Regions from separate parts of the Homo sapiens genome. Here region 2 is linked to region 1. The links come from fine-mapping of genetic effects on gene expression. Tissue or cell type: lung. Region 1 holds a variant in brackets; the other region holds the start of a gene. All regions are shown on one strand. Distances are from middle to middle.

The links. PIP is the estimated chance that this variant, and not a neighbour inherited with it, causes the effect.
Region 2: it holds the start of LMF1, and the variant in region 1 is fine-mapped to the expression of LMF1 in lung (TOPMed, PIP above 0.99).

The regions. Positions count from the first base shown.
Region 1 is chr16:876,219-884,218 of GRCh38, forward strand. LMF1 (lipase maturation factor 1) reads right to left here. Exons shown (of 11, transcript NM_022773.4): 6 at 3,352-3,519. Among named protein-coding and RNA genes, the nearest start is that of LMF1-AS1, 41 kb to the right of the region's middle. The variant G/C (reference allele first, on the strand shown) is at 4,387.
Region 2 is chr16:967,704-975,703 of GRCh38, forward strand. LMF1 (lipase maturation factor 1) reads right to left here and starts at 3,281. Exons shown (of 11, transcript NM_022773.4): 1 at 3,085-3,281. The coding sequence starts at 3,277. It overlaps LOC124903620 (a long non-coding RNA gene), which reads left to right and starts at 6,366. Exons shown (of 2, transcript XR_007064935.1): 1 at 6,366-6,908; 2 at 7,638-8,000. RefSeq lists enhancers at 1,486-2,477, 4,460-5,450 and a silencer at 2,523-3,692.

The sequences.
Region 1 (8,000 bases):
GCAGGAGCCCACGCGCGGCCGCGGAGGGCAGGAAGCCAGTCCGCAAAGGCTGCACAATGCTTCCCACTCTAGGATGTCCGGAAGAGGCAGTACCGTGGAGACGGAGGGTCGGCGGGGCACAGAGAACTTCCAGGGCCACAAGCGACTCTGCATGAAGCTGTGATGGGGACACGTGTCGTCGTCCGTTTGTCGGAGCTCACAGAATGAGCAACACTGCGAATGGCTCTCCTGTCAGCCGGGACTTTAGTTGGCAACAGTTTATCAGTCCTGCCTATCAACTATACAAGGTCCTGGCCGATGCAAGACGCTGAGCGCAGGGAAACTGGGAGGGGGGGATAAGGGAACCTTTGTAGTCTCTGCACAGTTTTTCCGAAAATCTAAAAGTGTTCTAAAATAAGTCAATTAATAAAACGAAACAGAGCTGAAACACTGGAGCAAAGGACGCAAGTGGCTTGGGGCGGACAGAGGCAGGCTGGGTGGGCTGAGGACCTTGGACAGAGGCGGGCTGGGCGGGCTGAGGACCTCGGGGGGTCATGGTGGCAAAGATGCTGCCCAAACTGAGACCTTCAGTAAGTTAACATGGCTGATTGATTGATAACCACTGAGGAAACAGAGGATCTTCCTTATCCATTAGAGGAGGGAAAATAACAGAAAAAAACGAGAGAGAAAGATACAAAGAACAAAGAGAAAAACACAAAGATGTGGAAATACGTCCAAATATGTCAGTTGAGATATACGGGCCTGTTACTTAAAAGAGAAAGACGGCCACGCTGACCCTAAGCATGACCTTGCTCCCCGCTGTCTCAGGAGATGCGTGTCGGTGAGGACACAGGCCTTGAGGCCGGGCGCACACCTGCAGTCACGGCACTTTAGGAGGTCAGGCAGGAGGAGTGCTCGAGCCCTGGAGTTCAAAACCAGACTGGGCAACATAGCGAGACCCCCAGCTCTACAAAAAATGAAAAATAGCTCGGCGTGGTGGCACCTGTAGTCCCGGCTACTTGAGAGGCTATAAAACTAAGATAATACTATGACTTTTTTTGCCAAAAGATTTGAAAACAGATGAACAAATTCCCAGGGAAATGTTCACCACAAAAACTGCCTCAAGTCAAGAAGGAATGGAAACTCTGCGTGTCCTACGGCCCGCAAGGGTGATCAGTCACAGAGACCCTGGCGGCGCAGGTGGCCTCATGCAGGAGCACTGCCAGGTGTGAGGGACGGTCACCTCTGCTTTCCAGACTCCCGCAGAGGAAGAGGCTCAGATGTTCTGGGAATGTGAACTTGCTTCAGCATCCACAGCATTAATGTAACTCGCCACGTTACAGACGAAACAACAAGTCATCTCGTGACTGATGGAGAAACGCCACAACTCAACATCCATTCATGGCTAAAAACCCACAAAGGAGAAGTGAATAAAAGCAGCCACGAAAACAACCCACAGCCGGCATCGTGAGAGGCAGTGCGCGGGGTGGCGGGCCCTCCCTGCTGTGGGACCCCAGACCCAGGACAGCACTCGAGCCCGCCCAGCAGGGGAGAAAGGGATGGACGTAGAACCGGCAGAATCCCTAGATCACCCACAGGACGCGTCTCTGAGGGACCCGCAGACAGACGGGGAAGTACCAGTGCAGAGGTTGTCTGAGAAAGGTCAAGGTCACCAGAGTCCCACACTTAGCCACCAAGAGGAGGAAGTGTGACTTAAAAGGGCACCATTTACAACATCAACAAAAAGAAGTCACCTCAGAGCTGCAGCCTACAAACGCGCGTGGGGTCTGGCTACACAGAATCCACTGAAGCTATTCCAGGAGCCCCCAAACACACATGGGGTCTGGCTACACGGAACCGACTGAAGCTATTCCAGGAGCCCCCAGACGCGCGTGGGGTCCAGCCACATGGAATCCACTGAAGCTATTCCAGGAGCCCCCAAACACGCGTGGGGTCCGGCTACATGGAACCGACTGAAGCTATTCCAGGAGCCCTGAGCAGCTGCAGAGAGAAACGTGCGGTCCTGGCTGGGGGACGATCTGTGAGCAAGTCCGTTCTTCCCACTTAGATTCACGGCGACATCGATGCCCACAGGGAAATCACCTGATGGGCACCGGTGCCAGCCTCCAAGCAGCTAACGCGGAAAAGCCCGAGGGAGTCAGGAGCTGCTCAGGGCCCCGGCGGCCAGAGTGAGGGTCCTTGCTGGGGGGAGGGGTCAAGAACAGCACAGCCACCCTGGACACGTGCAGCTTCCAGTAAGGTGAATCACAGGCCTGCTCACGATACAGTAGCGCCCTTGAAAATACATCCACAGGATGACGAGATTGCACCTCTGCACGGCAGGCTGTGGTGAAAACCAGAAACTACCACACGTGCACAGACGGGACGGGTGAACCGACCGCAGGCACGCACCGTGAAACAGGACCCGGCCAACAACCATGGGCGCCCCCACGTGCACCAACGTGGCGTGGCACCCGTGCCTGCTGACGGAGCTTTGCCCCTCTAGGCGGCGGTGCTCTGGCAGGGGTGGGCAGGGCAGGGGAAGGGCGGGGGCAGGGGCGGGCAGGGCAGGGGAAGGGGCGTGGGACACCCAGGTACATCTGTTTTCCAGAGCACGTGGAACGCCACCTGGACCTGTGCATTTTCCTGGCTGTATGTTACACCTCCATTGAAACAATCGAGAGAGAGAACCACCTTTAAAATCCCCACCACATTTTCCTTGGGAATTGACAGTCGGAATGTAGCGTTTACAGGGAAAAGCAAAGGCTCGGGACTGGCCCAGCCCCCCTGGAGGCAGCGTGGGGGTGCTCTGTCCTTCGAGGCGCCCTCAATGCAGGGGGCTTGTGGGGCAGGGATGGCGGTGACTGTGGGCAGGACGGGGCGTTAGGGGGTACCCGGGGTTCCGGGGGCTGGGGGAGGCAGCCCCTCACCCACATGGAGGCAAATGACCCTGGCCTCTCTCAGACCCTGGTTCCCCGTGGACTGACATGAACACTTGAAAGGAAACCTCTAGAATGGAAGAATCTTAGGAGTGGATCCCAGGAATGTGGGGGTGTCCACACAGGGCCTTGGCGTGCTGACCCCGTCCCACTGCCGAGCCCAGGACATGGCCGGGCCTCTCGCAGCTGCAGGAAACGCTCTTGGGAGGAGCCAGTCCTTGGAGGAAGCCTGGGAAGGAGACCCTCAGCCTGCAGCCCGGGACAGGGCTGCAGTGGGGCCCGTGACACAAACGAAGGCTGGGGAGGACAGGCTGTCCCCAAGAAAGGGGGCCTGTAATGCCCCAGGGTCCTCCCAGAGAGCGGGGCAGCCAGAAATAGGGCGACGGGCCAGCGTCTCTGTGGACACGGGGCAGGGCGGGCGGCGCGGGCTCACCTGGAACAGGATCTGCAGCACCCCGTGGATGATGCACGCCCGCCGGCCGAGGAAGAGGAAGAAGGGCACCAGGAGCTCGATGAAGTGGTTGCTGAGCGTCTCGAAGCGATGGAACCACCAGGGTGAGTGGTGCAGGTAGTACGCCACAGGATTGGGCATCGGCTGGGTCTGCAGGGACAGGAGGGGCCGTGAGGTGCCTGGCCGATCTCGGGGGGCGGGGCTAGGGAGAGGCTTGTGGGTCCCTGGCCCCCTGACCCCGGCTCCTACTGCACACAGGATCCCCCCGGCCCGCCTGGCCCTGCACACGTGGAGCCCACCTGCCACGCTAAGAGGGGCCAAGAGACATTCAGGGAGCTTTTGAAGCAAAAGCAAAGTGTTCATTTTTGTCTTAAAATCTTTACCATCTAAAAGCAAAGAATACACACCCCAGCTGAAGGAGAGACGACACCTGTAAACCCCGTGCCCAACTTGAGAACACAGGCAGTCGGAGAACAGGCAGTCGGAGAACGCGCCGCCTGCTGCCCACAGGCGGCCAAGCTGCAACCCCCAAGAGCCGGGGTCCACAGGCGGCCCCTCAGGCTCAGGATGCCCTTTCCCTGGGGATGGACACGTGGGTGGGGACGTGCCGGTTGGGGACCAGCAGGAATGGGGCCCGGGTCCCGAGCCCAGCTCAAGGCTCTAAGCGCAAGACCTGGCTGTGGGGACCTGGAAGCCTCCCAGGCCAAGGCACAGAGAAGTCCCCACACCTAGGGTCCCACTCAGCAGCCCAGCCAGGAGGAAGGGTGGGAACTTGCCCTGCACCATAATTCAAAACTATCAAGGCCAGGCACGGTGGCTCATGCCTGTGATCCCAGCACTTTGGGAGGCCAAGGCAGGCAGATCACTTGAGCCCAGGAGTTTGAAGCCAGCCTGGACAACTTATCAAGACCCCATTTCTATAAAAATAAAAAATTAGCTGGGCATGGTGGTGCGTGCCTGTAGCCCCAGCTACCCAGGAGGCTGAGTCAGGAGGATCGCCTGAACCCAGGAGGTAGA[G/C]GCTGCAGTGAGCCACGACTGTGCCACGGCACTCAGCCTAGGCAACAGAACAAGACCTTGTATCAGACAGTCGATCCATCAATCAAGTCAGAGTGGTTGTGCAGACTTGTCTGGAGTGAGAACACCCCACTGGCAAATGGGGCCCAGGCCCCCACACGCTGTTTTCTGGAAGCCCCCAACAACGGGATCCAGAGTGGCACTGCCAGGGCTGTGTGAGTCGGTGAGCCCAGGGTGGTGGTGGGAAGAGTGCCCTAGATGGACGATGCTGCACGCTCTGCTTGCCTTTGTGGAGGGGCCTGCCCGCATGCTGCTCAGGGCTGAAGGCCTTGCTAGCACAGCCCGCGGGAGCCATTGGGCCTGGCACAGCCGCAGAAACCCCACTAGGGACAACAATGAACACGCCCTGCAGGGAGGGAGGCGGCCCCCAGACGCTTCAGAATCCGCACCCAGGTCCTGGGACTCCCAGGGTCCAGAGAGGCTACGTGGAAGTCGGGGCCCCCAGGTGGCAGAAAGCGCACATAGGGGCTGTGCTGGGCAGCGCTTGCTCCGGGGTGGGGGTGTGGGAAGCGCAGGAGAGGCGGCCATGTGCACACCCGAGGGGGTGACCGGGCACAGGGCCCCAGTGCACCCCAAGAGCCGTGGGCTGGGGAGGGTCCTGAGGCCTCTGCTCATTTGCTTAGAGGGCAAAGAGTTATTTTTGTTTACACTGAGGCTAGGAGAAAACATCATGACCTGAAACTTGGCTGTGAGCCGTGAGGTGGGTGTGGCAGTGTCGCATGCTGCAGGCAAGGCCAGGAGTTCCCGTGCAGCTGGGACACTCAGCCCGCGGCCAGGGGAATGGTGGGTCAGGGCATGGCGGTGCTGCTGGCCCAGACCTCAGGAAACAGCCTGCAAACTTCTCCTAAAAAGACAATTTTAAATAAGAAAAACATGAGGAAAGAGTGAAGGGGATGACACCTGTTTAGGGACTTAGAAGGCAGCAGATCTTGGGGGAGAATGAGTGTCGTCTGTTAGGGCTTGAGTGCCCCATGTGGGACCCACCCCCTAGTGCCCACAGGGAAAAGCCAGAGAAGAACCGGAATGCCTGGTCTGCCACTTCCCTTTTAGGCTGCTTGTTGTGTGTTTGGGGTTGCGGCGAGACCCATGCAGGAGGCAGCAGGCTTGGCCAGGTGTTGGGAACAAGCATCTCCAGGGCTAGGCCCACACCCGAAGTCCCAGCTCTTGGTCTGGCTTTTGGGGTGGGGGACTTTAACCTCTCCTTCCCTCTTGCATGCTGGGGCTGCTGACGTGTGTCGGCTGAGCTCTGACGGGGAGGGGAGCGGGGGCTGCTTATGCTTATCAGGTGAGGGTCTTGGGATGAAGAAGGAGGTCCCATGTGTTCCAGGAACAAGCCAATCACAAGCGTCCCCGTGGGAAGCGGCCCTTGGATGTTTGTGTCCCGAAGTGGTAATTGCCACGGGCTCTCAGAACCTCACCTGGGAAAGGGCCACAGCAGGGACACAGTGCGATGCCTTTGTGGACGTGGAACCCCCACTTCCCACCAAGGCAACTGCAGATGGAGAAAAATGACACTGAGTGATAAAGACGGTGACAAATGTAACAGACATGGGGCTGACATGACCCAATGCTGTGTTAAAAAGAGAAGAGCATCAGGCTCAGCTGTAGTGGCCACTGCCCCTCCTGAGCATGGCTCGCCTCCCCTGGAATCCCAGCCGACCTTGGGACTCAGCTTTGGCCAAGAGAATGCAGCGTGAGTGATGTTCTGAACTTTCAAGCTCAGTCCTTGAAGAGGCAGCTCCAACCCCATTAAAGGTCCCTCTACTCTGAGGCCACCAAGCTGTGAGGAAGCCAATGGTGGCCATGTGGCAAGGCCACCGGGAGATGCACTAGGTTCCAGTACAAGTGAAGCCTTCCTGGACCTCCCGGCCTAGCTATCAGCTCGTGAATGACCCCACCTGACACCACGTGCAGCAGAAGAGCCACCCAGGGGAGCCCATAACAGGACCAGGAGAAAGTTGCTACTGCTCAGGAGAAGAGCTGCCCAGCAGAGGCCATCACAGGACCAGGAGAAAGAGAAGCCAGCAAGCAGGGCCCATCGCAGGACCAGGAGAAAGAGGAGCCGGCAGCAGAGCCCATCGCAGGACCAGGAGAAAGAGGAGCTGCCCAGCGGGGCCCATCGCAGGACCAGGAGAAGGAGGAGCCGGCGGCAGAGCCTATCACAGGACCAGGAGAAAGAGAAGCCGCCCAGCGGAGCCCATCGCAGGACCAGGAGAAAGAGGAGCCACCCAGCGGAGCCCATCGCAGGACCAGGAGAAAGAGGAGCTGCTCAGCAGAGCCCATCACAGGACCAGGAGAAAGAGGAGCTGCTCAGCAGAAGAGCTGCCCGGCAGAGCCTATCACAGGACCAGGAGAAAGAGAAGCCACCCAGCGGAGCCCATCGCAGGACCAGGAGAAAGAGGAGCCACCCAGCGGAGCCCATTGCAGGACCAGGAGAAAGAGGAGCCACCCAGCGGAGCCCATTGCAGGACCAGGAGAAAGAGGAGCTGCTCAGCAGAGCCCATCACAGGACCAGGAGAAAGAGGAGCTGCTCAGCAGAGCCCATCACAGGACCAGGAGAAAGAGGAGCTGCTCAGCAGAGCCTATCACAGGACCAGGAGAAATAGGAGCTGCTCAGCAGAAGAGCTGCCCGGCAGAGCCTATCACAGGACCAGGAGAAAGAGAAGCCGCCCAGCGAAGCCCATCACAGGACCAGGAGAAAGAGGAGCTGCCCAGCAGAACCTGTCACAGGACCAGGAGAAAGATGCTGCTGCTCTAAGCCACTGAGGCTTGGGGTGTGTTGGGCAATAGCAGATCTCTGAAACAGCCTGAATCCAGAAGCCAAACAGTGTTGAACTCTGATGTTACTGGGAAAACCCCATTTTAGAGAAACCAAAGTAAAAGTCTTTCTGAGTCTTTGGGTAACAGATACTTAGTACTGACTCACACACCCTCCACCCCAGACAGGGCTCAGCACTCGTACCCGTGTAAGCCTCCTCACATCCTGGAGAGGTACAGAAACAATATTTGAAGAAATATTGGCCAAATATTTTCCGAATGTAATGACAATGATAAACCTATAGATTCAAGCAACTCAGCGAACTCCAAGCACAAAAAATATGAGGAAAACAACACCAGATAACCAAATGGTCACATTTTACTGCATGACAATATGACACTATTGATCACTTTGATTGTAGTTTGATTGACAAATAATCAAATTGTCACAAACTGCCTATAAATGTTAATTAGATCATGTTGGTTAGTAGTGTTTTTCAGCTCTTTTACATCCTTCCTTATTTTCTATCTACCTGCTTTATCTATTATTGAAATCTCCAACTTTATGGATTTGTCTATGTCTGCTTACAGTTCTATCCATTTTTGCTTCATGTCTTTTGAAGCTCTATTATCAGGCGCATACGTGTTTGAGAGTCTTCTGACCTCCTGATAAACACTGTGAAATGGCCTCTTTACTCCTGATCATATTCTTTGCTCTGAATTCTGCTTTGTCTGGTGTGAAGGTGGCCAGTCCAGCCTTCTTGTCACTCATTCACGTTTTTGGTATGTTTTTCCATCCT
Region 2 (8,000 bases), 91 kb after region 1:
CCCGAGAACGCCGCTGCCCAGATGTGAACCGGGTGTCCAGGATACGCAGGCTGCACAGTGGCGTGAATGAAGGGCAGGGCTGAACTCCAGGGCCTACGGACAATCGCTGCACAGCCGGGCCAGTGGCTGACCCTGCTTCCTCGCTGTCCACTGGGGGTAGTGGCGTTGTCACCAGGAGGTCAGCACCGGGCAGGGTGCTACTTCAGCATCTGCTCAACGCAGTAATCACACTAGGGACCCGAGTCCACACGTCAGGAAGACAGGTGTGTCTTCAACTCTGAGCCCTGTGAAAATGCCGCTTTCCGCTAACACACTCCGGCTCCCACAGCACAGCAGGGCATGCCCGACACCCCAGGACGCCCGCGGTATGCACGTCTGTGTGCAGTGAGCACACCCCTAGCACCTACACACCTCGGTGGCAGCACATGGAAACGCCCAGGCCCGCGGTGGGAAGGAGCCAGCCCCAGGACGGATGCAAAGTCAGGTTGAATGCAGAGGCCTGTCGCTGGCAGCCGGCCTCTCCAGGTCTGGCTTCGAAGCTTCCCCGACAGGGCAGGCGTTTCTGTGTTCTCCTGATCTGTACATCTTTACTACATGTCTGCTGAGACAATCTGCCTAAGGGTAAGCCTCCCTCAGTTCAATGTCTTTTAACAAGGGGAGTTTCCACAGAATACATTTGGTTATGTGTTTAATTACAAGTGTTTCAATAGCTATAAACATTGTAAAATTCAGTATCAAGTGAAATATTTGGAGAGCCCCTATGGCAACTTGGAAAAACCCTGGGATTCTGAGGAACAGGGAGTAGCGCACAGTCCCAGTAAAATCCAGAACTTTCTAGAAGGAGATAAATGCAGGATGACTGCCTGCTTGCCCTGGGCCAGCTCAGCCAGAAAACCATGTCCCTGAAAGATGGGAAACTGGTTCCTTGATACAGCAGAAAAACACTGATTCTACCCCAAATGTACTCACAAGACAGAAGAACGTGCATATGTCAAGGAGAAATGTTCAATGCTGGGCACCAGGCTTAAAATATCCGCTTGACCCAGTGGCTTAAAAGCAGTTCCTTCTGAATTGAACAGAGAATCCCTGCGGAGATCAAAGGAGCCTCAGCTCGTTTGAAAGAGTCTGAGCTGGTTTTATGAAGCTGTGCTCCGGAGGCAAGGCCGCTGGGACTTCCTGCTGTATCTCGGGCTCCCCTGTGGAAGGCCTATTAGAGCCTCACAGCTTCACTTTATCTCTACTTCATCGTTTGCTAAGTGACAGCACCAACATTTAAAATGACTGTTTAATACTGTGGAGGGAAAAGCAACCTGGGAAGAACTACTTTTTAAAATAATTGCAGGCCGGGCATAGTGGCTCACGCTTGTAATCCCAGCACTTTGGGAGGCCCTGAGGTCAGAAGTTCGAGACCAGCCTGGCCAACATGGTGAAACCCTGTCTCTACTAAAAATATTTTTAAAAATTAGTCAGGCATGGTGGTGCGTGCCTATAATCCCAGCTACTCGGAAGGCTGAGGCAGGAGAATCGCTTGAACCCAGGAGACGGAGGTTGCAGTGGGCCGACATGGTGCCGTTGCGCTCCAGCCTGGGCAACAGAGTGAGACTCCGTCTCGAAAAAAATAAATAAATAAAATAAAATAGTTGCTTTAAAGAAAGAGAGAGAGAGACACAGACCCAGTTGAAGCCGATACTGCAATCCCACAGGAAACCTTGTAGTGATGAGCGCGTCTCATCACTTTGCACCAGGAGGTGGAAAGTATCACACAAATGTCACACAAAACGTCGAACTGAGCATCACTCCAGCACAACCAGGCTACCAAACTTCCCGCGACGTGTGTGGCACAAAGGCTGTGCAAAGAAGAACTTCTGCAACCTGACCCTTTCCTTCCACACGTGAGGGAAGCAGACGATGGAAGGAAAGGGAGACGTCCAATGCCCACGGCCTACAACCAACGCGTGGGCAACGCCCGGGGCCAGCAGCTCCGGAGCCCTCTGGGACGGTGACTGCCCACGCGCCCCGCTGGCTGCATCTCGGCCTGGCAGGCTCCCCTCACTTCCATACTCATTTGAGAGCCTCACTTGAGGTTCGTAGCTCCTGACACGTTGGGCTTATGAAACATGTATCCGTGTGATCACATGTCACCGTGATCACAGAACCGTTCTCTTCCAAACCAGTTCTGGGTTGTAGGGACTGGGGAGAGAGGGAGTTGGAATCGCCAGCTGCCCCTGGCCAGGGGATCCAGAGGTTTTGAGCGTGAACTGACTTTTCTCAGAGCTCTGCTCTGTAGGCTGCGCACGCGGGCCCCGCACAGCTGTGGGGTGAAGGGTCTCCGCCAGTGGACCCGGCCAACCACATCCCACAGTGAGGCGCAGGCTTCACTTGCAGATGAGGTTCCGGAGCTGCCCCCAGACCTCCGCTGGGAATCTTCCCGAACGCAGACTGAGCTAGTCGAGAACACTAAAGGAGAAACTCCAGTCTGGCCACCAGCCAGTCACCTTCCCTCAGCCCCTGGGAGACGCGAAGGAGGCTCCCGGGCCGGCTCCTCGGATTTTGGCAGGGGCCGCACGCGGCAGGGATGTGGCGTGCGGGCGTCCAGTTACAGTGGGAACCTTCACCGTCAGCACAGCGCTGTGTCGGGGACAGCAGGAGCGCCTCGCCTCTCCAGGCCGCCCCCCGCCCCGCAGCCAGGACGCAGACCCCCGACCTGCGCACGGACGGGTGACCCTCCACCTGCCCAGCTCTCCTGGGAACTCCTGGGCCAGGGCCCGGGCCGGCCCCGCCTCGCATAGCCCCGAGCCGGTCCTGGCAGGCGCGGCCGTGCAACTTCGGGGCTGCGGGTGGAACCGGGAGCCCAGGAGCCCAGGCCGGAGGCTCGAGGCGGCGACAGGGGTAGGGCCGGGTGCGCTGTCGCCAGCAAGCCTTGTCCTGCCCTGCCCGCCCCGCCTTGCCCGGGCCCCAGCAGGAAGGAGGGCTGCGTGGGGGCGCCGCGGCCGCGAGACCGCGCGGAGGAGTCTCGAGGGAGGGCGGGGGTCGTGGTGCGCGGAGGTGACACTGGCGGATGTCCCGGGCCCGCCCGGCACTCACAGTACACGAAGGCTAGGGCCTTCAGGAGCACGATCCGGGTCAGCCAGAAGGTGCCCGTGTGGAGATGGGCCGGAGAGCCTGCGGGGCCACGCCCCGGCGCGGGCGGCGACTCAGGCTCCGGATCCGAGTACCCAGTCTTCCGCCTCCTCAGCGACTCCGCGGGCGCCGCCATTGTTGGGCTGTCAGGGCGCATGTGCGGGGAGGGCGCACTCCCGGAGGCCCCGCCCATTCTCGGAGGCCCCGCCCATTCTCGGAGGCCCCGCCTCTCCCTGGCCGGCCCTGCCCACGGCCGAAGGCCCCACCCACACCCCGGGAGGCCCCGCTCACAGTCCCGGAGGCACCGCCCCCTCCAGCCGGCCCCGCCCACGCGCGGGAGCGGGTGCCCGGAGCCTGCCTCCTTCGCAGTTCTCGCTGGGCGCTGCTGCGGGTAGGGCGCGGGGCCGGGTACCTGGGAGGTGGTGCGCGTCGCCCGACCCGAGCTCACTGGGGCAGGCACGCGTGCCTTCCGTCAGTCCGAGTTGCAGAGGCCAGGTGCCCTCCCCCAGCCAGGCGCCTTCCCAGCTGTGGTCCTGGGGAAGGTGGGCTGCACAGGCCCTGGCGGTGCTACCACTGCGTGCCCCTGCCTCACAGCTGACACTCACTCTCTGCGGAGGAGGGTGCTAGGGCGATCGTCGCAGCCAGCAAGGGACAGAGTAGGCAGGGCTGTGCCTGGAATGCTCGGGGGACCCTCCCCTTTCTCCCAGCCTGAGCACCCTTCCGCCTTTGCACAACCCAGCTCCTGCCTGCCCTTGGGACTGGACTTCAAGCTGTGGGGGAAGAGGGGGACTCAGGACTCAGGAGGGAAGGGCTAACTGCCCAATGCCCCAAACAGAACATGAAGGAGGACGCCAGCACTCTACACTCTGATGACTGGAGCGGGGTTCTGGAGGCTGATGTGAAGCGGGTGCTAGGAAGGGCTGGGGTCACAGGCATTCCTTAGAGGAAAGAAAGGGCGTGAGGCTAGAGTAGGCATTGGAGACCTAGGGGTTAGTGAATAAACTGTGGGGCACTTAGGTGGAAGTGCAGATTTCTCCTTATTCATTTGTCAGCACTCTTTACGTATGAAAAATCCTGTTCTTTTGTGTATATTGGAAATATTTGTCCTGGTTTTTTGTTTTTGTTTTCATGTATTCTTCTCTTTTGCCTCTCTAGCTTTCCTAGTGTTTTGGCGTATCAATTATCGCCACTGGGTTGGTCAAATGACCCGTCTTTATTGCTTGTTTAATTACCTGTTTAATTATATCTTCACCACCTGCAGTGTGAGCCTTGTGTGGGCAGGGACTGACTGTGGACATCGGGCCCCCAAATCCAGGCCTGACCAGCAGTGGCCCGAGCTTCCTCTCAGCCTCCACCTTCCCTGTGTTGCTGGGGCCGTAGCATACGTGTACATCTTATGGTTTAATTCATTTTTAGTTTCCATTTCTTTTCTATGAAACCCCCCTTAGGAGCCCAGCTGTGAAATGGGACCCTGTTAAAGATGTTGCAACGGGTACGAACACACAAACATCCTCCGCATGCTGGCCCAGCCTCCGGGAGCGTGGTGTGTGCCTGAGGGCTCGGAGCCTTGGGGATCGCAGGAGGCATCGGCCCTGGCTGGCGCCCGGCACCCAAGTCCCTCCACAGAGCCCACGACCCGTACCTCTCCTCGTGACCTGGGGGCCAGCTTAGGAAGGGCCGGCACAGCCCACACTGTTCCCCTCATCTGTGGGGAACAGGGAGCCCCACACCCTGGGACCACGCCTGCAGAGCGGGCCCTGTCTGGGTGCCAGGCCTGCTAGGGGACGGACGGCGAGAGGGACTGCCCTGCGTCAGGTGTGGCCCTGCGCTGTCCTCAGGTGGGGCTGCCCTCACAAGGAGGCTTTGTGCACAGCTTCCCCTCGCTGGGCCGAGCTGCTCTCCCCGCGAAGGGCACAATGGGGCATTGTGCAGAGCAGAAAAGGGCCTCTTGTTCCAGCTTCCAGCGCTCCGGGCTCCGGCTCTGCATTTGCCCAGGGTGGGAGCAGTCAGCGGAAGGGTCTGCTGGGAGCTCCTGTTCTCTCTGAGCTCAAGTTTCCCTCAGGGTCTGCTCTCTTGAGACGCTGACCGCAGGGGTCCCATCCACTGCCCAGAATGGCTCCAGAGCAGGTCACCGGGGGCAGGGCTTGGGCCGGGGAGAGGTGGACCAGCAGCTCTGGTCGTGCCCATTTCAGCCTGAATTTAATCAAAAGTGCACTGGGTTATGATTCAGCCATCAAAAAGAATCCAGGAGCCGGGCGCCTGTCATCCCAGCACTTTGGGAGGCCGAGGCAGGTGGATCACCTGAGGTCAGGAGTTCAAGACCAGCCTGGCCAACATGGTGAAACCCCGCCTCTACTAAAAATACAAAAAAATTAGCCAGGTGTGGTGGCGGGCACCTGTAATCCCAGCTACTCGGGAGACTGTGACAGGAGAATCGCTTGAACCCGGGAGGTGGAGGTTGCAGTGAGCCTAGATCGCGCCACTGCACTCCAGCCTGGGCCACAGAGCGAGACTCTGTCTCACTAAAATAAAACATAAAATAAAAAGGAATCCAGTTCTGACACGTGCTACAACACAGATGAACCTCAGAACATCAAGCTCAGTGGGACAGGACAGACGCGGAGGTCATGAGTTGCGTGAGCCCATTTACATGAAATGTCCGGGGTGGGCAAAGCCACGGGGAAAGGAGGGAGCTCTGTGGTCCAGGTCTGGGGACGGGGAGTGGGGAGCCAGTGGTCCGGGGGTAGGACGTTTTCTTTTGGGCTGATGAGAATCTTCTGGAACTAGGCGATGGCTGCCCAGCACTGTGAGGTGCTAAACACCGAGTCGTTCACTGGCAAATGGCTTATTTCATGCTATGTGAATTTCGCCTCGAATTTTAGAAAAGTAAAATGAGGCCGGGCACCGGGGCTCACGCCTGTAATCCCAGCACTTTGGGAGGCCGAGGCGGGTGGATCACGAGGTCAGGAGATCGAGACCATCCTGGCTAACACGGTGAAACCCCGTCTCTACTAAAAATACAACAACAACAACAAAATTAGCCGGGCATGGTGGCGGGCGCCTGTAGTCCCAGCTACTCGGGAGGCTGAGGCAGGAGAATGACGTGAACGCGGGGGCTGGAGCTTGCAGTGAGCCGAGATCGTGCCACTGCCCTCCAGCCTGGGCGACAGAGCGAGACTCTGTCTCAAAAAAAAAAAAAAAAAGTAAAATGAAAACAAAAGACAACAGACAGCCCTGCACTGGTGTTTCAGAATCGCCCGGAAGGCGCTGTCACCTGTCGGAATACATCATGTCATTTACGCTCACCTTACTTCTTTGTCTATATTAAGGCGCATCTAGCAGTTTAAAAATAACATTTAGATACAGGTGTGTCTTATTCTCTAAGAAGGCACTTCACTTAAAAACAGGCTTCTCTGCAAACCCAGAGTGAGCTGCAGCGGCCGGGAGATCGGCCAGGTGTGGTCCTTTCACCCTGCAGCTCAGTGTCCTGTGACCACAGGCACGTGGGCCCTGCCCTGAGCGCCTCACACCAACCCGAGGCGGGAGGAGGAGGAGGGCGTCCTGAGAGTGCCCTGTCAAGCAAAAACTCTAAGAGAAAAAGCCAGGCTGACCCAGGAGAGGCCTGAGGGAGGGGAGTGGAGATGAGGCTCGGCCACCCCAGGGCTGCCCGGTGCTGGGGGAGAAGACGCTGAGAAGAGGAGGAGAATGGGGAGGAAGGGACGGACACCCCAAGAGCACGCAGGCTGAAGACTGGGCTGCCTCCCCGGAGACCGACCAGCCTGCCCTAGGTGGGACCCTGTCCCCGCCGTCCCGGCCTGCGCCAGCACAGCCCCCAGGACCCAGGCACACACAAGCCCGTGGCTGGCCACGCTCCCAGCAGCTGCGGGCCGGCTTCAGGGAGGAATGAGCCCCTGTCGGCACCTCGTCCAGCTGTCCCCCAGCACCCCGGCCTGGCAGCTCCCGCCTCCTCGGGGCCATTGTCCCTGGCATGCGGTGGCAGCTGTCTCTGGCACCCGCAGGAAGCCAGTGTGGGCCCGAAGATAATCGTGCACCCTTCATTTACCCCAATTTTTCATGTCCTGAAGTCTGGGTATGGAAGGGGGGCCCAGGACCCGTGGATGCTAACATCTGTTGCCTCCTCCTGGAAGGGTGGTCAGTTTGGGCAGATCCTGCTGTGACTGTCCAGCGGCCAACCCCCCCACCCCCCACGTGAGGCTGGCAGGTGCGGGTGGGGGCTGAGAGAGCAGGTGTTGTGCCATTTGCTGGTTGTCCTGGGACGATGACTCACAGACGGCTGTTCTGCTTGGCTCACCCTGTCCTCTCCCTGCACCCTCGGCTACAGGTCACGAGTGTTCCCACCCCTGCACCCCAGAAGGAGATGCGGCTCCATGTGACCCTGCAAGCTGGCAAGCCATGGTTTCTAGACAGTGGAAAGCACAGCTCCCAATGTGGTGGTGTTCTCCGGTTGCAGGGCCCTATGTTAGGAAACGAATGTGTAATTTTTTTTTTTTCTCTAGGAATCATATTCTGCACTGGAAGAAGCCTTGAGAGTTGCCTGGCCCAGAGGTCACAAACCAGAGCCCTGCGGGCTGAGCTCTACCCACAGTGCAGTTATCAGTCACCGTGTAGCGGTCACCGACGGCCACATTAATGCTGCGTAACAAACAGCCTCAGAGCCCACCGTTGTGTGTCGCCAGGCGGTGCTGTCCATGCCCAGGCCCCAAGAAAGGCAGGGGAAAGGCTGAGCTGGGCCTGTGCCCTCTGTCCCTTCCTATGAGCCTCTAGAGCAAAGCTTTGCTGAAGGCTGTTGTCTGAACCAAGGCCACAGAGGAAGCACGCTCCCTGCTCCCACTTTGCCCCTCGTACCCGCCTGAGGGCAT